Homo sapiens: one gene and its partner. The protein of the gene in region 1 interacts with the protein of each later gene in a biochemical or structural test. Each region holds a gene or a part of one and is shown on either strand. Other genes may lie near its edges.

Region 1 (7,029 bases):
GATTACAGGCATGCGCCACCATGCCCACCTAATTTTTGTATTTTGACGGGGCTTCACCATGTTGGCCAGGATGTTCTTGATCTCTTGACCTTGTGATCAGCTTGCCTCGGCCTCTCAAAGTGCTGGGATTACAGGCATGAGCCACCGCGCCCGGCCAAAAATATATTTTTTTATGGTTTTCATCCCCTTTTCTACTATACATGCTATACATGAAATATCTGACTCAGTTATCTGACTCTTCCAAATCAGTTTTGCTCCTGTGTGACAGAGCTAGTGGAATTACCTGAGTCTGGCCAGCAGTGACAGCCGTCTGGGGCTGCTGGATGATGATCTGCTGGGTCTGGCCCTGCTGGCCCTGCACCTGCACAGCCTGTCCACCCTGGATCTGGATCTGTCCAGGTGGGACCAACTGTATCTGCAGAAAAGAACATAAAAAAAGGATTGTACTCTACTGACACTGGTCTCCTTTGGTCCCCGAGAGTTATCCACATTTCTCTAGAAAGCAGAAAATGTTCTGAAGAGGAAAAAAGAAGTCCTGCTCTGCCCTCCATTATGAAGTAGACACAACTTATTTTCCATTTATGAAACAAATAGGGAATTTCGACACTGTCTGGATACCTGATATTAACAAATCAATGTCGGTTTTTATGAAAGATAGCAGTGGTATGATTATATATATTGAAAAGCATGCATATTTAAAATACACTCTGGGCTGGGTGTGGTGGCTCACGCCTGTAATCCTTGCACTTTGGAAGGCCGAGGTGGGTGGATCACTTGAGGTCAGGAGTTCGAGACCAGCCTGGCCAACATGATGAAACCCTGTCTCTACTAAAAATACAAAGATTAGCCGGGCATGGTGGTGCATGCCTGTAATCCCAGCTACTTGGGAGACTGAGGCCGGAAAATCACTTGAACCGGAGGCGGAGGTTGCAGTGAGCCGAGATCACGCCACTGCACTCCAGCCTGGGCGACAGAGCGAGATTCCGTCTCAAAAAAATAAAAAAATAAAATACACTCTAAAGTGCTTTATTATTATTTTTTAATCTTGCCATTTTGGTGAATGATGAAGTACTTTTTTACAGAGGAAATACTATATATATTAAAAATGCTGAAAGCCGGGTACAATGGCTTATGCCCATAATCCCAGCACTTCAGGAGGCTGAGGCGAGCAGATTAGGTCAGGAGTTCGAGACCAGCCTGGGCAACATGGCAAAACCCTGTATCTACTGAAAAATACAAAAATTATCCAGGCATGGTAGGACATGCCTGTGGTCCCAGCTACTTGGGGAACTGAGGTGGGAGGATCATTTGAGCCTGGGAGGCAGAGGTTGCAGTGAGCCAAGATCCGCACCACTGCATTCCAGCCTAGGCAACAGAGCGAGTAACTGTCTCAAAAAAACAAACAAAGAAAAAACCCAAAATGTATTCTACTCTAGTCAAATGTGACTGCAGCCCAGGACAACACCTTGATAAGGGCCTTGAGAGGACCTTGAAAGAATCCAACACAGCTGTGTCAGGATTCCTAACTCACAGAAACTATAAAATAAATTTTTTTTTTTTTTTTTTTTTTGGAGACGGAGTGTCGCTCTGTGGCTCAGGCTGGAGTGCAGTGGTGTGATCTTGGCTCACTGCAAGCTCCGCCTCCTGGGTTCATGCCATTCTCCTGCCTCAGCCTCCCGAGTAGCTGGGACTACAGGCGTCCGCCATCACGCCTGGCTTAATTTTTTTTTTGTCTTTTTAGTAGAGACGGGGTTTCACTGTGTTAACCAGGATGGTCTCGATCTCCTGACCTTGTGATCCACCCGCCTCGGCCACCCAAAGTGCTGGGATTACAGGTGTGGGCCACCGCACCGGCCAAATGTTTGTTGTTTTAAGCTGCTAACTTCTAGGATAATTTGTTATATGGTAATAGATAATTAAGGCAATGTGACAGATTATATTCCTCCTATTAGTTTCCAATTACCAATACTCACTACTGTCATTAATGTTTGTCAAATTTTTGTTGATTTAATTTGTATCTCCTATTTGGTCCTAGGATTGGATAGCTAAACCTTATAAAGCAATTATGGAAAGCAAGGGATCGTGTGCTATCCAAATCTATCTTCTTTCTTTTTTTTAATGGCTATAGCCACTTTATTAGGAGTGTTATCAGAAACCTGACAAGAAGCTTGAAAAATATTTCTCTAAATTTTGGAACTAAAAAACTGCAATACAACCCTTTAAATGTTGGGTGTACAAAATCCTATTTTCATATAACTAGTGAACACTTTTTTTTTTAAGTGCAAAAGAGAAAGCAGTGAGGAGAGCCCCATAGCTCAAAATGTCTTGTATTTTATATTCAAGAATACCTCCCAAACTTAAAAGCCAGAATACATGGCTAGTACTAAGTAACCTTCTCTTTGCTTCTTTGACCATTAATTCCATCAACAAACTTTTTTTATTTGAGCATTGCTTCAACATAGATGGCAGTCTGGAAGGAGGATACTTTCAGAAAGATAGATTTTTATAGCCAGGTCACTTTCCATCCATAATTTCAACTTGGGACCACCTTGGTCTGGAAAGAAGAACATGCCTAGAACCTTAAGTTATCACAAAGTCTACCAGCTGATAGGAAAAAGGACTACTGATGGAAGGAAGGTGAAAAAAACAGGTCAATGGGTTCCATGTCTTAGAGACATTCATGGATCCTACTTTGTTAGGGGATAGATTGCCTAGGTCTTCTGAATTATTTTTTCCAAATACTCAGCTCATAATTGGCATTCAGAAAGTATTGGCAAATAAATAAGTAAACAAATTTATCTGGTTATGTGAACCAACTTCATTTCTAAGTTTATATTGGCTGTTAGGATTTCCTCTTCCATCTATTCATATTCTTCGCCCATTTTCCTATTTTTGTATAAATACATAAACGTTATTTATACATATTCTGAATACAAACTCGGTTGTATGTATTAAAAATATCTTTTCCAAGTTTTCACCTTGTTTACTTTTATTTGATGTATTTCAATGCATATTATGTTTTAGTCAATTTGTTTTTAAAAATATCCTTCTCTATAGCATAAAAATTCTTATATTTTCTTTTGAATTTTCCAAGTTTACTTTTCTACATTTAGATCTTTAATCCACCTAGCAAATATTTTTTAAAATACAGTATGAATTAGAAATCAGTTTCTTTTCTGTATCATTCTTCAGCCATTTCTTCATTGATATGTTTATACCACTTTTATTATATGCCAACTTCCAATATTCTTCTATCTATTTCTTGGCTGTCTCTCTGGTTCCAGTATCTTTCTCAGGCCAAGGATTTTAATCTAAAATTATATGCAGAATTTTTCATGAGACTGGACATCTCTACTTTTTCTTAGAGGGTGCAAGCTTTACTAGGATTCTAAAATAGAGAATACAATTCAAAAAAGGTTAAGAAGTAGTCTTCTTTAAAAAATGGCTACTCAACACTAATGAGAAAAAAAACTCCTATACAAAGGGGATTAAAGCCTTAAGTATTGTAAGGGAGGCTATGGAATCTCACCTAGAGAGCTTTATTTACGTAACAGAATATATTTTTTTCAGCTTGGTTAGTTATAGCCCTACTTGGAAGCAGGGAAATAACTATTTGAAGGTTCCTTATAGCAAAATAAAACCCCATAAAAATCACAGAATTTAGAGCTAGAATGAACCCTAGATATCATCTCATATAAATTTTATTTTTGGATGAGCAAACCGACAATTAAATAACTTGGCCAAGATCAGAATGCTTATTTAATGGCAGACCTGGTAATGAAAGCTTGGACCACTACACTCACAGTATACTGTTCCTAACTATACCACATTGTCTCTACTCAACAGTGGAGAAGGCGCAGCAAGGGGGACTGGAGAGGAAGCAAAGAGAGAAGAACAGAAAGGATATAGCAATAGGGAATCAAGGAAAGCACATGCTGAAAAGATATTTAAAGCCTCATATATTTATGCAAAGAGAAATGTGAAAACTATTTTTAATCCCAAGTACAATTCTATCTTGGCAAAAATATGCCAGTGGGCTCAAATATACTCTTACCCTTTACCCAAGCAATCCCCAATCCAAAGAAATTATCCTGAGAATTCAGTTGAAAAATAAAACTATCGTGCCCAAATGTTTACCTACAAAGGCAAATGAAAACCAAAATCCTTAACTATATTTTATAAATTAGAAATTCTGATTCATCAAGTTGACTGAACATTATGAAAGAATTAAAAAAAAAAAATGAAAACACAACCCCACATGCATGGTACAATTATGCCCAAAAATTATGCATAAAAACACAAAAGAATACACAAAAAGTACAAGTTTGATTTATGAGCAGTGGGATCATGGCTGCTTTTTTCAACTTAAATTCCTCCAGAAAACTAAGACATTAATATGACTGCTGTAACTGTTGAAACAATATAAACATTTAGATAGAGTAACTAATAGTTATCTCATACTCTCTTTTCCATGACTATAAACATATACTCATGGGGGGTTGGTTATGAATTACAAAGATGAGATCACACACTATTTCTCTGCAAATTATTTCCACTAAAAATATTTCAATATTAACCCACCCCAAGTCAACAGTTCATTTCTTTTAATGATGATGCAATATTCCCTATGAATATATTATGATTTATTCCAACCATTTCCTTATTCTTATTAATGGACACTCAGATTGCAATTTTATTTTTTGCTAGTACAATGCTATGAAAAGTGTCTTTGTAATTTCCCCCTACTATTGATGCTTTTCTTCCTATAGGACAGATTCTCAGAAGTGGGACTGCTAGCTCAAATATTCATTGTATTTAACAGATAGTGAGGTGCCTTTCCAAAATAACTCTACAGTTTTAAATTACCAAAAATAATGATTAATTCTTTTTCTCCACATCCATCCTAACAGTGGATATAATGACTTTTTGTTTTTTTTTGCCATCTCGATGAGAAATATCTAATTTTAAAATATGATGCCACAGAGTTGTATGTAACATTTCTACATATTTCTGTTAATCTCTTCTTTTTTTTTGAGACAGAATCTTGCTCTGGTGCCCAGCCTGGAGTGCAGTGGCACAATCTTGGCTTACTGCAACCTCCGCCTCCTGGGTTCAAGATATCTTATGCCTCAACCCCCCAAGTAGCTGGGATTACAGGTGCGTGCCACCACGCCCGGCTAATTTTTTATTTTTAGTAGAGATGGGGTTTTGTCATGTTGGCCAGGCTGGTCTTGAACTCCTGGCCTCAAGTGATCCACCTGCCTTGGCCTCCCCAAGTGCTGGGATCACAGGCATGAGCCACTGCGCCTGGCCTTCCTTTAATCTCTTCTACATCTTTGCTTACTTTTGTTTTCTGTTTCTCAATCAGTGTTTCAACTGGATTTACCTGTTTTATTGGTCTGCTTAAACAATCTAGATTTTATTTATCCTTTCTATACGTCAGTTTTCTACTTAATTAATTTGGACCCACTTTTTGCTCGTTTTGTTATTTTTCTAACTTTCTAAATACTCATTTTTGTTTCTTTTAAAATAAAATATACTATAAACTAGATTCTAACCTCTTCATATACTTTACAGCAATTCAAGATCATGCCTAATATCTTAGTCATTACTGGAGCTGTCCAATTTCTGCATAGTTCTAGTTTATATCACTGGTACTATAAAGGCAGAAAATCAACTGAATGCAAAATGTGGGTTAGGAAGCAGTTAAATGCAATATCAATTATCAAATAGGTTGTAATAATCTATTCTTTGAAACCTCTCCTCTGATATACTGCTCAATATTTTTAAATATTACTCACTTGCTGCAAACCCTGTGTTCCAGAAACAGGTACTTGCATGATGGTTTGACCTTGTCCACCAGGGACAGCCTGGACCATGATGGGTTGGCCAGTTGATGTGATTAGCTGGCCTCCACTGACCTGCACCATTAATGGCTGCCCTTGGACCTAGAATGAAATAAAATAAGAACAATGAAATAACATAAGACACAAAATGGTTTTTACCAAAAGACAATCACTGGAACTATTCTGCTGCCTTGCTAGAAAAGGAAAAGGTAGAAAAGACTAAGAAAATATATGTCTCAAGTCCTCAAGTTATCTTTAAATATCTATGAATCCTGTTACTAAATGCCAAGCTCAATACTTTAAGGTCAGACATAATGGAGAATATCCAGAGTCTTTGAGAAGTCTCAATAGATATAAGGCATTTGTCACCAAACACGGGCTAAATCCATGACAAACATTTAATCATAATGGCAAGGTTAGTTGCCTGTTTAAACCAATCCAGGAATGGTCTGTAGTGAAGGCTGGAGAGAAGGCAATGAGAGGGAAAGGTGATGGTGGTGATGGTGGTTGAGTACAAATTCTAAATAAAGTGAAGAAGGTAAATCAAACTGTACCCAGCAATGACTCTAGGAGGCTGGGTAGCAAGCAGCTCTGGAAGCTTATGTAGAGGATGACCCTTTTTTCCCTACAGTCTCTCAAGCTAAAATGAAATGTCAAATGTATACCTTTATCCTGCTCATTTTACTCTGTGAATTCTAGATATGTTTGTTGTTTAAACTCACTACTAAAGATTTCTTAAAAGCACTTTCTGGTCAGTTTGCAGTCTCCATGGTGGAATTCCTCACTGGCCTCTATAATATCCACATGGTTATTTTAGCTTTATCAGAAGCAACAACAAATATTGAAATTACACAGAGCAGTCAAGTGTACAAATTTCAAGCTCCTATGAGTAAACAGACTACTGTAGGAGCCAGGTCACTACAAGTGCTCTGTCACATCTTAAGTCCCAATACAAAAATACCTAATAGAATGCTTTCTGGAAGCACTTTAAAAGTGCTTTAGAAGTAAACTGTAATGATCCATGGAATAGTCCAAAATTTTCATTTTCAGACTCTATCTTTGACAGAAATTACTTAGAACAGAATATTCATGACTGAAATATTCACACTTAATGAAAGTATGTGCAAGTAACAGCAATTAGTTAACAGATCATTCTGTCCTAGATGAGTAGGTTAGATAGTAA
Region 2 (7,029 bases), on another chromosome or scaffold:
AAAAAAAGTATAAGGTTTGAGAACTGCTACACAATCACAACGAACGATTCAAATATCCTTACAACTGAATCTTTGGTCCCATCCTTAAATTTTCTTTAGGATACCTACACCAAGAACTGAAAGGCACATAGACTTTCAAAGCATTTGATATCATAATGCCAACTGCCCTGCAGAAGATTTTTTCAGTTTATACTGTTAGCAACAGAATACCTGCATGGACATTTAACATCATTTGCAACAACCCACAATGCTTGAACTACTGCCAATATGATGGATAAAAACACAGGGGGGCTATTTGACTTTAATTTGCATTCCTTTGCTAGAAAGTTTAATATATTTTAATTTTAAATGTAATACTTTAATATACTTCCCAATTTTAAAGAATTGGTTATTCTTCGTGGAAAGGGCTAGGAGACACAAGTAAATAAATGGTAAAGGTGACAGTCTATGATTTTTCTCATTGGGAAAAAAAACTTCGAATTAATGTTTTTACTCTAGTTCTGGTTTAGAAAGCTTGCATTTTTTTAAACTTCAATTTAATAATGTAAAACTCTAAGAATGATATTTAAATTACTAGTTGCAATAGTGCAGCAGTTCTCAAACTTTTTGGTGTCAAGATCCCTTTATATTCTTAAAATGTATTGAGGACCACAAAGAGCCTTTGTTTTCCTAGGTCATATTTATCAATATATGTTTTTTACTTACAGGATATTATTACTTATTATATGCCCTTTAAAGGAGTCTTTTCTCAGAATAGCATATTGAAAAAAAAAAAAACTCCCTGGGATTTTTTTTTTCCTTGATTAAAAATAATGCTGTTAAATATACATGCTTTGGGCCAAGCATGGTGGCTCATGCCTGTAATCCCAATATTTTGGGAGGCCAAGATAAGAGGATCGATTGAGCCCAGGAGTTTAAGACCAGCCTGGACAACATAGCCAGACCGCATACCCACCAATAAAAAAATAAAATAAAAAAGAAAGAAAGAAAGGAAAAAAAAAAAAAACACAGAAAAGAAATTTGCACGTCATAGTGGTATGCACTTGTAATTCTACATGGGAGGCTGAGGTGGAGGATTGCTTGAGCCCAGGAGTTTGAGGCTGCAGCAAGCTATGATTGTACCACTGTACTCTAGCCTAGGCGAGAGGGCTACACCCCTATCTCCCCCCCACCCCCCCAAAAAAATACATATAGGTATGAGGTGTATGTGTGTGTGTGTGTGTGCACACTTTCCTTGCCTTAGATCACATGTAGCACATCGAAAACTAATCTAGTTTATCTATGTTTCTCTAATCTTTATATAATTATAATACATTTTAAATGGAGGTTAATTAGTAAAATATATGCATATAATTTATGAATAGTTTTTATTTTTTGTTCATTGCTATATCCCAACATCAAGAATAATATGTAACAGGCAATAATTGCTGAATGAATCAATAATAATATAGATCAAAAGGTATATAATAAAAATTTAAGAGACCTCTAATTACATGACTTTATAGGAACCCTCAGACAATGAAATCTTATGACTTCTATTTCCATTTGTTCTTTGTCCATGCCACTGCTTATACATACACTATGGGAAGTATTTCAGGAAAGAGAGCCAAGGGATGATGAAAGTAAAAACCTGGGTTAAGATCTATGTTTTCACTTTCTATAGCAGTTTCCACATTTACATTGTTAAATTTTGAAAGCTTTACCTGAAGAATGTATATCTAGTTTATAATGACAACAACAAAAATCACTAAAGATTCAGAAATTGCTACCATTACAGTAAGAATTCTAAGGAAGCTACATGAAACACTGATCAGGAAGCAAGATGAAACACTGAATATACCAGTAAATCTGGTTAGATTCAACAATCTATTAGCTACTTAAAAGTTCATGGATGTTAATACTATACTAATTATTTTATGAATGTTTTTGTTTTGAAATGTGTTTTTGAGAAGTATTTGAATGTGGGATAATTCTGAAGATGAAACCTAACTAAATTACTTCTAGGTAACTAAAGCTCCAATTTGTTAATGGATCTCAACTGGAAATTACTATTTATTCATCTAGAAGTATGCCTAGATCTTCTTAGTTATTTGGGACAGACACACAGTCTTATAACACTTACATCTGAATCTACCCAATCCCTCTTGCTGAAATAGGCAGTTAACTTTTTTTTTGAGACAAGGTCTTACTTTGTTGCCCAGGTTGGAGTATAGTGGCACGAACATGCCTCAGTGAAGCCTTGACCTCCTGGGCTCAAGTGATCCTCCCACCTCAGCTCCCCAAGTGGCTGGGACTACAGTCACTCACCATCATGCCTGGCTTATTTTTGTATTTTTAGTAGAGAAGGGGTTTCATCGTATTTTGCAGGCTGGTCTCAAACTCCTGGGCCCAAGTGATCCACCTGCCTTGGCCTCCCAAAGTGCTGGGATTACAGGCTTGAGCCACCGTGCCTGATCCCATTTTTAACTGATGCAGAGTTTTCATTTTTTTGAAATAGGAGGGTCTCACTATGTTGCCCAGGTCTCAAACTCCTGGGGTCATGCATTCCTTCAACCTCAAGTTCCCAAGTGGCTGGGACTACAGGTGCATCTCAGTGCCCCTGGCTCTGATGCAAAGTTTATTGCCACATTCTTTCAAGTCAGCTTTTACTACCGGTCAAATTAAACATTATTCCTCAAGATACTTATAAATGTGGGGCAAAAATAAACTATAGCTTACAGATAAAAATGTATTATGAGGCCAGGTGCAGTAGCTCCCACCTGTAATCCCAGGACTTTGGGAGGCTAAGGTAGGCGGATCACTTCAGGTCAGGAATTCAAGACCAGCCTGGCCAACATGGCAAAACCTCATCTCTACTAAAAAAATACAAAGATAAATTAGCTAGGCGCCATGGTGGGCACCTGTAATCTCAGCTACTTCGGAGGCCGAGGCAGCAGAATCACTTGAACCCAGGAGCCAGAGGTTGCAGAGAGCCGAGATTGTGCCACTCCACTCCAGCCTGAGCGACAGAGCAAGACTCTGTCTCAAAAAAAAAAAAAAAAAAAAAAAAGAGTATTATGAAACAGTTAAACCAAAGAGGATTCATCTATCTACCACCTAGCTTTATATTTTACCATAGTTTGTTTGTTTTTGTTTTTCTGTTTTGTTTTTAAGAAAAAAAGGTCATCTACAGTTAAAGCTTCCTCTAATATCCCTCTCCAGTCTCATTTTATTCCTTCTTTGACTATTCTAAGTTTGATTTTTTTTTCTTTTCTTTTCTTTTTTTTTTTTTTTAAGAGACAGATTCTTGTTTTGTCACTCAGGCTGAAGTGCAGTGGTGCAATCATATTTCACTGTAGCATTAACTCCTGGGCTCAAGCAATCCTCCTGCCTCAGCTTCTCGAGTAGCTGGAGCTACAGGAGTGTGACACCACACCTGGCTAACTTAAAAAAAAATTTTTTTTTTCTACTTGTAGAGACAGGGTCTTGCTATGTTGCCCAGGCTGGTCTCGAATTTCTGGCCTCAAGTGATCCTCCCACTTAGGCTTTCCAAAGTGCTCAAATTATAGGCATAAGCTACAGTGCCCACTTGTCAACTATTCTAAAATTGGTATCTTCTCTGTTATATATTTTTATAACTTTACTACATATATATCAAGATAGTAGGATTGCTTTTATATGCATAATTGGGAACATGTATTTATTAAAATTTATTTTTTATTCAAAATTATGTTTGAAATAACTCTAGTTAACAAATGACAAGCATACTGAATTGTTTCAGGGGTCAAATATATTGTTGTCTACAGCTTACCCTGAAATGCATCAACTGTCCATCTGTTTAGGGTCCTGGAGGATTTTACACCCCAGGGCAATATACCATAGAAAGATTCTGAATGGGTTAGAAGTCATCATCGGCAGATATCTGATCCTAGGAAAGATAATGAAGAACTCTAAATTACATTAAACTATCTATACTCTGCAAAGCCTTCACATCCCTCAATGTGAAGATACTGCTCTACAGAACTTCTACATTTATGTCCCGGGGAACCATGTACAAGTGTTCCCAAGCTCAAAATAATCTAATGCCATCAACAAGAGAGAATAAATACATTCTGGTACAGACAAACAATGGAATACTATATTGCAACGAAAAGTAACATAAGTCACAAAGCTGAATGAAAGAAGCAAAGTCACTACAGAATATATGGTGTGATTCATGTGTATAAAGTTCAAAGAGGTAAAACTATAAAGAAAAGATTATCGCAAAAGTCAGCATAGTAGTTATTTTTTAAAGGAAACAAACATGAATAGGAGTGGGGGCCTTCTAGGGTAATAGACATACTCTATATTTCTTAACATGGGTTGTTTCTCAAGATACTTATAAATATGAGGCAAAACTGTTTAAATAAAATACAAAATATTTACCCATGTTGTAACACTTTATAATTTTATTTAAACTCTATGTTTTATATATATTTTCCTACATGCACATTTCATTTTTAAAGAAAAAATAATGAATTGCCCCATTACAATACTAAACTTCCATTTAGTATTTTGATATAAAAAATAAGATGTACATAAATTGTTACACTTCATTTTAATAGTTTTATTATAAAATTTTATAGTTTTACTATTTATGGGATTGTTTTCTAAACCCAGAAACTAATTTTCTTTAATTATATTTATATTTTTAAAATTGTACCATGTAACAGCCCAGACATAATGATCACTATATGACTGGGCATCTATCACGTAGATACTGCAGCATGTAAAGTCATACTGGTGCCTGCTACTTTGAAGAGCTTCTAATATATAGAGTAGAACACAGGACGAGGACAAATCACATGAAAACACAAACTTAAAAAATAAAAACAACTTCTCTAAGTGGTTACCTTTGGACAGCAGGACTGAGAGTCAGAAGGGGCAGAGGAGGCAGGCTCCTTTTCATTATAGACCTATGAATTAAATTTTGAATGGTGTGCATATATCACTTTGATAGCTTTTAATATAAAAATTGTTAAACCAATCTTCATACAAACTATAGAAGGCAAGAGGGCTCTGACAATGAGGATGATGTTAATACCTGGAAGAGAAGGAATCAAAACATTTCTGCATAGAAATTTGTATATCCAAAGCTCAGCTGCATAATTTCTCCCTCTCTGTCAACAAAGCAAATAGCACACAATGAGTTATTTTCCTCATATAATAACTTAAGGTGCTTAGAACCATGACCAGAAAAGACATTTGTAGTACTGCTCAACAGCCACTTTTATTATAGTATACAGCTCATTTGACAAGACACAAAAAACTCTTTTGTAGGTTCTCCATACTAATGGAAGGAAGATTGTTCAGATAGTTGGAAACTGTCCTAATCATTGGAGTTGACTCAATAATGGTACTAACTTAATTTCAACCATTTATATGAAGCAGCTCCTAAGTAAAGGAGCAAAATAGTCTGGCTAATTTATGGAAGCAATGATTATCTTCAAACAATTCAAATGAGGGGAATTTTCTTCTCATTTATCCAAGTCAGTGAATACCTAACAATGTCCCATTAGATGAGATGTAATGTTAGGCAAAACCTACAAATATGCAATCAAAGATGCAGTTAAATATCTGAAGAAGCTTCAAAAATCATATCCAAGCATTACAGGGTTAAAAAAAAAGTTACTTCCTCCCAGACTCAAACAAGTACATACTATTGTGCTAGTCTTTAAGTCACCCCTGCCCTCCCCCCAAAAAAAGAAAGAAAACAAAAATATTACAAATAATAATAGTGTATTTCTCAAGAGAGAAGAGCTTTCAAAAGGCTGTAAATGCCACCCTAAATCAGTAAGGGGGTGTTTTTCCTAAAGCCCCAGGAGTAAGAGTATGGAGAGGGAAACCAAGAAGCAACAATTGGAACCAAAACAACTAACACTGGAAGAGTTCACTGAGAAATAAAAAATAGGTTAATTACATTAAAAAACAAAGATTATTTATTATGGCCAATATGGCAGTAGGTTTCGGGGGTGGATCAGAGAAAAGGAAAGACGGATAGCCACATAGTTGAACAACATATAGCACAGCAAAAAAAAACAGACTAGAGAAAGGGATAACTGGGATGGGAAAGGAGCCCAAATGGGTTCTAATACTGATAATAAAGTACTCTAGTTGCTTTCCTTCCTTACTAGAGGCTATGGGCTTCAAAATAGCATTGCTGCCTAAAACTTCAAATATTTAAAGGCAAAATAGCTAATTCCTCTTCATAGCCTTAAACCTGTAAACTCTCTTTCTGAAAATGTGGCATATAAGCACCTATGTCATAATCATTTAGGGTACACAGTAAAAAATGCTGATTGTTTAAGCAAATCCTACGCCTAATGAATCAGAATTTCTGAGTTAAAACTGGGTGATTCTTTGTTACACCAAAGGTTGACAATTACAGCTTTAAAGGTAATACTATCATAGTATTACCTACAACATGCAGACACCAGTCAGAGATTAAGCTGAGGGCCACATGCTTTTTAAAGATGTGCCATCTTTAACTTCAGCAAGATGGCCAACTGAATTTGTCACGTAAGATGGCAAAAAAGAGTAGCCAAAGGTTTAATACAACAAATAATACCTGTCTACTCATATGTGCTTGGTACTTTGTCAAAGGTTGAAAAAGACAGAAAAACAGAATAAAACCTTTCTCCTCTCAAACAGCGTATATTCTTATTCTTATTGACGAAGACACTCTTCTTAACATAGGTAAATGCTATTCAACGTTCAGCATTCATCATTCCTTCAAGATAAACTCTCCTGAGTATTCTTTCAGTCATCTTTTATCTCTAGGCAATCTGAATCTGAATTTACCTAGTCAGTGGTTGGTTCTGTTCTTTACTTCACTTGTTAACAAGCCCTGTTTTCCCAACAGGAATTTAAGTTTATGAAGATAAAGCCCATGTTCCTAGCCTTTTGTGCTTTTTGTTTTTTAGGACAATGATGGCCACACTGTGGACGATTTCGCACCGAATTGAGTTAGGGCACTCAGAAATTTAGGAGATTCAGCAGTTATGCATAAAC

The links. The genes of interacting proteins can lie anywhere in the genome.
Region 2: the proteins of NFYA (region 1) and ELF1 form a complex in vitro, tested with the Homo sapiens proteins (one study listed by BioGRID).

Annotation. Positions count from the first base shown.
Region 1 is NC_000006.12:41,082,965-41,089,993, reverse strand, and holds part of NFYA (nuclear transcription factor Y subunit alpha), read right to left. Parts: intron 5,949-7,029; coding exon 5,802-5,948; intron 416-5,801; coding exon 284-415; intron 1-283. UniProt on the Homo sapiens protein: Component of the sequence-specific heterotrimeric transcription factor (NF-Y) which specifically recognizes a 5'-CCAAT-3' box motif found in the promoters of its target genes.
Region 2 is NC_000013.11:41,009,288-41,016,316, forward strand, and holds part of ELF1 (ETS-related transcription factor Elf-1), read right to left. Parts: intron 5,139-7,029; exon of another isoform or gene 4,872-5,138; intron 3,908-4,871; exon of another isoform or gene 3,791-3,907; intron 1-3,790.